Homo sapiens: one gene and its partner. The protein of the gene in region 1 interacts with the protein of each later gene in a pairwise test. Each region holds a gene or a part of one and is shown in the gene's direction. Other genes may lie near its edges.

Region 1 (3,648 bases):
GTATTTGTGCTCCAGTACTGTGCCACTAGCCACATATGGCAGATGAGCACTTGAAATGTGACTAGTGTGACTGAGGAAATGAATTTTTGATTTCATTTAATTTTAATAGCCACACGTGGCTGGTGGCTGCAGTACTGGGCGAAGCAATTCTAAAACACAGGATGAGTTCTTTCCCAAGTCAGAAGCAATACCAGTGTTACTCAGCTTGGCAAAGGAAGTAGTACCTGTATAAATAGAGCTGCAGAAAGCTCCCTCAGTCTGTTACGTTAGGGGACTAGTTCTCTGACTTTTGATAGTGGCAATTGACTTTTCTCTCTGGTTATTGCTGAGAATGAAGAAAATGGCCTCAACATGTGTCTGTCTGTTCCAATGGGGAAGTAAAAGGACAGGTGGGTAGAAGTGTATTAAACGTGGCACAGAGGAGAACTAAGCTCAAGATCCAAAAATCAGTTCTGGACAGCTCCCAAAGACATTTTTCCATGCTCCTCCCCTCCGCCCCCTATGACTATGGGGAAGGATTGAGAGGTGGAAATAACTTATTAGTTATAAAATATAGTGCTTAAAAAAAAAAGGAGACGGCAATGTGATCTTGTCTTCTCAAAACAGTGAGCAGGACTGTCATTGTGGCCAGGTCAGATTGCAGAGCCTAAGGCTAATTCTTGATCTTCTCTGAGACAAACCTGGGACAGCACCTTCCAAGTCTTGGTTAAAGATCCATTTACTGTGATTTAGCTGACATGGGCAAGCACTGTTCAAATAGTGAAATAATGAAACTATAGCATTATTCCACCTTAGTAAGTACAGCCAAGACTCATTATATTTTCCTTCATATCTCGTAGGGACAAAAAAGGAAACTCACATGGTGATTTGGTGAGAGAAGCACTGTCATTAAGCCAGACACTAACTAAGGCTTATGATTGTCCACGTTTGTGTGCGATATCTATGCCTAGGGAACAGGTTACTGTGTAGAGAGGTGTGTGTGCCAGAGGAAGGACACTAGATTTATGCTCAAACAACTTCAGTTCCTAGCCAACTTGGGCCAGGGTATCACTTCCTTCAGTTTTTTCATCACTAAAAGGGCAGTCAGCCTGCCAATCTCATTAGGTTGTTGGGACAAACAATTGAGATAGTATATGTGAAAGTGTATTTGAAGAAAATTAAGTGCTAAATAAATCCTGCTATGCTACATATTTGAAGCACCTCTAGACACAGATGTAGTTTCCAAACATTACGCTCTAGGTGGATTTGACATGATTCTTAGTATAAAACAGAAGCTGTTGTCGAACTAATGATCTAAGAAATGTTAAAATCCTATATAACTTTAAGCATGAACACTCACTCCTTCTACATTTGTTATACATTTTCTTTCTAGAAAAATAAGAGAGCTTCCGTAAGGCGACGAATTGACCAAAGCAATTCCCATGCCAACATATTCTACAGTGTTCTTACTATTGACAAAATGCAGAACAAAGACAAAGGACTTTATACTTGTCGTGTAAGGAGTGGACCATCATTCAAATCTGTTAACACCTCAGTGCATATATATGGTAAGCATAGTTCAGCGTTGCCAACTCATGCTATGCTTTCTAATCATTGTAGATGTCTGTGTTCTCTAAATAAGTCAGTTTTCTGTTGGCCAAGAGTTACATTATCATGAATGAATACAGCTTGGCCATGGTTCCCTCCTCCCCCTGTCAAAAAGCAAACCACATTAAGTACTCTTTACATTTAATACTTTTGAATTGAACAGAGAGTCCTTTCTTTAGATGCTTATTATGGCTAATAATTCGGTTAGAACCTAATATATTTATGAAATTCTTAGTGTTCTGTATAAACAAAACAGAAAAAGATGATGAGTTTTATCTTTATTATCTAAGAAAAATTTCTCAGGTACTACCATGAATTAGAGAAATAAAAATATGGTATGCTAAATCATTTAGAATTAATGCTATTTTATTCCTGCTTTTACTCTCAAGGAATCCTAATGCTGTTGCTTAATTTCAGTATGCAAATTCTATAAAGAAAATGCTTAAAGACCTTATTTCCATTGCTGAAAAGGAAACAGTGTGGAGGGCAGAAACTATGGAACAATTCTATCAGTAGCCTTTATTTCCTTTTGTCTTTCTCCAGTTGATTTTTGATATCAAATTGGTTGTTTTAGGGTGTACAGAGCAACTTTTTCTCACCTTGCTTATAGTGGCCAGGTAGATTTTTAGAAATATCTTCCCACTTCTTTGTTATTGTGATAGAGATATTTAAGGTGTTTCACTTTCTGTTGCTCTGCCACTGTTTTATGTGGCTAGGACGTGATACCATTTGATTTGAAAGGCGTTCACCAATTACAGTGCTTTTAAAGTATCCTATTCATGATCAACATTTGGGCTCATTGATAGGCTCTATCATAATTCAGCTCTGTTTATTTACTCATTGATTACACCCTCCCTGAATGAGGCCCTAAGGTTTTGTTTATGGAAATTATTCTTTTCTAATGTATGTATCACTTCTCCTTTCAAAGATAAAGCATTCATCACTGTGAAACATCGAAAACAGCAGGTGCTTGAAACCGTAGCTGGCAAGCGGTCTTACCGGCTCTCTATGAAAGTGAAGGCATTTCCCTCGCCGGAAGTTGTATGGTAGGACCATCCTTATTTCCATAACAGTTTAAGACATACTTTGTAAGTGGGAAGCTGCAAGAGCCTAATGACTCGAATTCCTGACAAAATACCAAGAGACGTTCCTCAGACAGCCCCAGAGAGCTCAGAACTCTGTAGATTCTTGGGTGGTGGAGGTGAGAAGGGCTGGGGAAAAGGAAATAATGTAGCAAGGTAAGCGAGAGATGAGGTTTGTTTGAGTGCTCGCTTCAGTCTAGTCTCTTACTGTGGCTAACTTTCTGCATCTCTAAACCTTCCTATGATGTCAACATTCTTTGAATGGGATGTGTTGAGCAATGACTAGGAAGCATTTTGAATATGTAACATGCTCTATTAACCCTGAAGAAGTGGGCTCTTGTAATGAGAATGCTGAAAATAATTCTTTTATATACAGCTGGGTTGAAAGTTCCAGTCCTGTTTTAAAATTAAACAAACATTAATAGAGACAAGACTTACTCATTTGAAGAGGGGGACGATGGGGCCTATTTGAACTAATTAAGTTTTTTTTGGCTAGAAAGATACATATTCAAAACCTCCTTCAGCAGTTGTTTTTTAAAACACTGGTACAACACCTGATGTAAAACAATGTAATCTGTTTATGATCTGCAATCATTTTACAAAATTACTGTTAAATGCCAATATCTTTGGCTCAAGTCATTACATTTTAAACAAAGGGTATAGTACAAAACTGATTAGCAAAACAATCCATACAATAGGGATGTGGCGCCATTTTAGAATCTCCCTAACCAGAGCTGATTTGGCTTTCAATGTCATATGAGGGCAGTGTTTGTTTGCAGTTCCCTCAAATACTTAATAGGGAATTAAAGAGAAAATTTTAACTTTGTGCTATGTCTTCATGCCATTGCAGTAGAAAAATGATCTTTTTTGCTTCAGAATATCAAAAACGTTTAGTAGTAAATTTTTAGGTTTAATAGTAAATTGAATAGTAATCTGATGACTCCAGGAGGTACATTCACTCTTCCAGTGTCTGAGGGCA
Region 2 (3,648 bases), on another chromosome or scaffold:
CATTCTCCTGCCTCAGCCTCCCGAGTGGCTGGGACTACAGGCGTGTGCCACCACACCTGGCTAATTTTTTGTATTTTTAGTAGAGAGACAGGGTTTCACCGTGTTAGCCAGGATGGTCTCAATCTCCTGACCTTGTGATCCGTCCACCTCAGCCTCCCAAAGTGCTGGGATTACAGGCGTGAGCCACCACACACTGGCTAACTGCTTTTAACTATACAAATAATAAAATACTCTTGGATGGAGTCTAAGGTGGAACTGACTGTGCTCTTAATAGTGTCTGAAATTTATATGGTACTTACTGGACTGTTCACAGGCTCTCTGTGGCTCTTGAAATAGCAGGGGCTGGGTGTGATGGCTCACACCTGTAATCCCAACACTTTGGGAGGCCAAGGCGAGAGAATTGCTTGAGGCTAGAAGTTCAAGACAAGCCCTGAAAACATAGTGAGACCCCCATCTCTACAGAAAATTTAAAAATTGGCTGTGTGTGATGGCAACTGCCTGTAGTCCCAGCTACTCAGGAGGCTGAAGTGGGAGGATCACTTGAGCTTGGGAAGTGGAGGCTACAGTGAGCTGTGGTTGTGCCACTCTGCACTCCAGCCAGGATGACAGCAAGACCCTGTCTCAAAAAAAAGAGAAAGAAATAGAAGCAGGGATATACTTGAAGGGGTATGTGTGTGTTCATGTCGGTACATTGGATGCTTGGTGCTGCTCGGTAATTTTGAATGCCTCACATGCATTATGCCATTAATTCTCATACACCTGACAGATGCAGGGTTCGTCCCTAAGGCTGATTAGCTCATTATGAGTGAAGAGTTTAGAACCAGACTCCCTGAGTGCAAGTCTAACCTCTTCTTTGGCTCCTCATTTGTAAAATGGGGATAATAACAGCATCTACCTCACAGACTATTAAATAATCCAATCTCTTCAAAGATCGTAAACCATGCCTAGCATAGATAATAAGTATGAGCTCTTTATTATTACTCTTGCTCCTACTACTCTTGCTAGCTATTTATTTTTATTTTTATTTTATTTTATTTTATTTTTTTGAGACGGAGTCTCGCTCTGTCACCCAGGCTGGAGTGCAGTGGTGCAATCTTGGCTCACTGCAAGCTCCGCCTCCCGGGCTCACACCGTTCTCCTGCCTCAGCCTCCTGAGTAAGTGGGACTACAGGCACCCACCACCATGCCCGGCTAATTTTTTGTATTTTTAGTAGAGACGGGGTTTCACCGTGTTAGCCAGGATGGTCTCGATCTCCTGACCTCATGATCCGCCCACCTCAGCCTCCCAAAGTGCTGGGATTACAGGCATGAGCCACTGCGCCGGCCTCTTATTTATTTATGTTTTGAGACAGTCTTGTTCTGTTGCCCAGGCTGGAGTGTAATGATGCAGTCATAGCTCACTGCAGCTTCTAACTCCTGGGCTCAAGTAATGCTCCTGCCTCAGCCTCTTGAGTATCTGGGACCGCAGGTGTGTGCCACTATGCCCGGCTCATTTTTTGTCTGTTTAGTAGAGACAGGGTTTTGATATGTTGGACAGGCAGGTCTCCAAGTCATCTGCCTGCCTTGGCCTCCCAAGGTGCTGGGATTACAGGTCTGAGCCACCACGCCTGGTGGATTTATTATTTTTAATTTGGCAAGTCTGTAAGCCCTTTTTTGTTCCTTTTTTTTCAAGAGGCCAGAGGCAGAGGCCTTTGTCATTTTCTGTGTGTCCAGGGAAGTGTGCAGGATGTAAGCCATAGATTAGGACTGGGAGGAAGAGTGTGTGGTGGTTGTGACAAGGGTCCAAAGGAAGGCAGCTTCCGAACTTACTTGAGATTATAAAAATAAATTTAAACCAGGTATCTCTGTGTAATCAAAAGGTTTCTGTAAAACAGAGATGGAGTGTATGTGTGTGTGTATACTTGTAATTTGAAAAGACATTCAGAATAGTAACTTTTGGGACAGTACAGACTACAAAAATTACAACATGATAGAACCTTCTTAACTACTAAGAATATAGAAAGGAAAATAAAGCCAGGCGTGGTGGCTCACACCTGTAATGACAGCACTTTGGGAGGCTGAGGCGGGTGGATCACATGAGGCCAGCAGGAGTTTGAGACCAGCCTGGCCAACATGCCAAAATCCTGTCTCTACTAAAAATACAAAATTTAGCTGGGTATGGTGTTGCACATCTGTAATCTCAGCTACTCGGGAGGCTGAGGCAGAAAAATCACTTGAACACGGGAGGTAGAGGTTACAGTGAACTGAAATTGCGCTACTGCACTCCAGCCTGGGTGACAGAGCAAGATTCTGTCTCCAAAAAAAAGGCTGGGCTCAGTGGCTCACACCTGTAATCCCAGCACTTTGGGAGGCCGAGGCAGGCAGATCACGAGGTCAGGAGATCAAGACCATCCTGGCTAACAAGGTGAAATTCCGTCTCTACTAAAAATAGAAAAAATTAGCGGGGCGTGGTGGCATGTGCCTGTAGTCCCAGCTACTCAGGAGGCTGAGGCAGGAGAATTGCTTGAACTTGGGATGCAGAGGTTGCAGTGAGCTGAGATCCTGCCACTGCACTCCAGCCTGGGCAACAGAACAAGACTCCATCTCCAAAAAAAATGTAGAGGCCGGGCATGGTGGCTCATGCTTGTAATCCCAGCACGTTGGGAGGCCGAGGTGCGTGGATCGCCCGAGGTCAGGAGTTCAAGACCAGCCTGGCCAACATGGTGAAACCCCTTCTCTACTAAAAATAAAAAAAGTTACCTGGGCGTGGTAGTGGGCGCCTGTAATCCCAGCTACTCAGGAGGCTGAGGCAGGAGCATCACTTGAACCTGGGAGGCAGAGTTTGCAGTGAGCTAAGATCACGCTATTGCACTCCAGCCTGGGCGACAAGAGCAAAACTTGTCTCATAAAAAAGGAAAATAATTTATTATAGAGGAGAGTGGTATATTAAGAAGTTTGACAGGCACTGGCTTAGAGTAAGATTTTTCTCTTAGAGTAATTTTCTTTCTCTCTTAAGGTATCCAAGCCCACCAATGGGATCTGTCTCAGCACCCAACCTGCCTACAGCAGAAGATAACCTGGAATATGTACGGACTCTGTATGATTTTCCTGGGAATGATGCCGAAGACCTGCCCTTTAAAAAGGGTGAGATCCTAGTGATAATAGAGAAGCCTGAAGAACAGTGGTGGAGTGCCCGGAACAAGGATGGCCGGGTTGGGATGATTCCTGTCCCTTATGTCGAAAAGCTTGTGAGATCCTCACCACACGGAAAGCATGGAAATAGGAATTCCAACAGTTATGGGATCCCAGAACCTGCTCATGCATACGCTCAACCTCAGACCACAACTCCTCTACCTGCAGTTTCCGGTTCTCCTGGGGCAGCAATCACCCCTTTGCCATCCACACAGAATGGACCTGTCTTTGCGAAAGCAATCCAGAAAAGAGTACCCTGTGCTTATGACAAGACTGCCTTGGCATTAGAGGTAAAATCTGTTCAGATTAGCTTTTTGGGTCCTTTGACATTTGGTTTTAATTTTTAGTTTTAGTTTAGTTTCTGCTCATTTAAGCTTATATTCATGGAATTAGAGCACTGGATGATTTTGGAAGATACGCACTGTTAGCGTTTCATTTTAAAATTTTTTTATAGAGACGAGGTCTCTAATTTTAAAA

What was found. The genes of interacting proteins can lie anywhere in the genome.
Region 2: the proteins of FLT1 (region 1) and CRKL interact in binary tests that used the Homo sapiens proteins (3 or more experiments, as listed by UniProt).

The regions. Positions count from the first base shown.
Region 1 is NC_000013.11:28,429,035-28,432,682, reverse strand, and holds part of FLT1 (vascular endothelial growth factor receptor 1 isoform 1 precursor), read left to right. Parts: intron 1-1,372; coding exon 1,373-1,547; intron 1,548-2,515; coding exon 2,516-2,633; intron 2,634-3,648. UniProt on the Homo sapiens protein: Tyrosine-protein kinase that acts as a cell-surface receptor for VEGFA, VEGFB and PGF, and plays an essential role in the development of embryonic vasculature, the regulation of angiogenesis, cell survival, cell migration, macrophage function, chemotaxis, and cancer cell invasion.
Region 2 is NC_000022.11:20,930,784-20,934,431, forward strand, and holds part of CRKL (crk-like protein), read left to right. Parts: intron 1-2,995; coding exon 2,996-3,461; intron 3,462-3,648. UniProt on the Homo sapiens protein: May mediate the transduction of intracellular signals.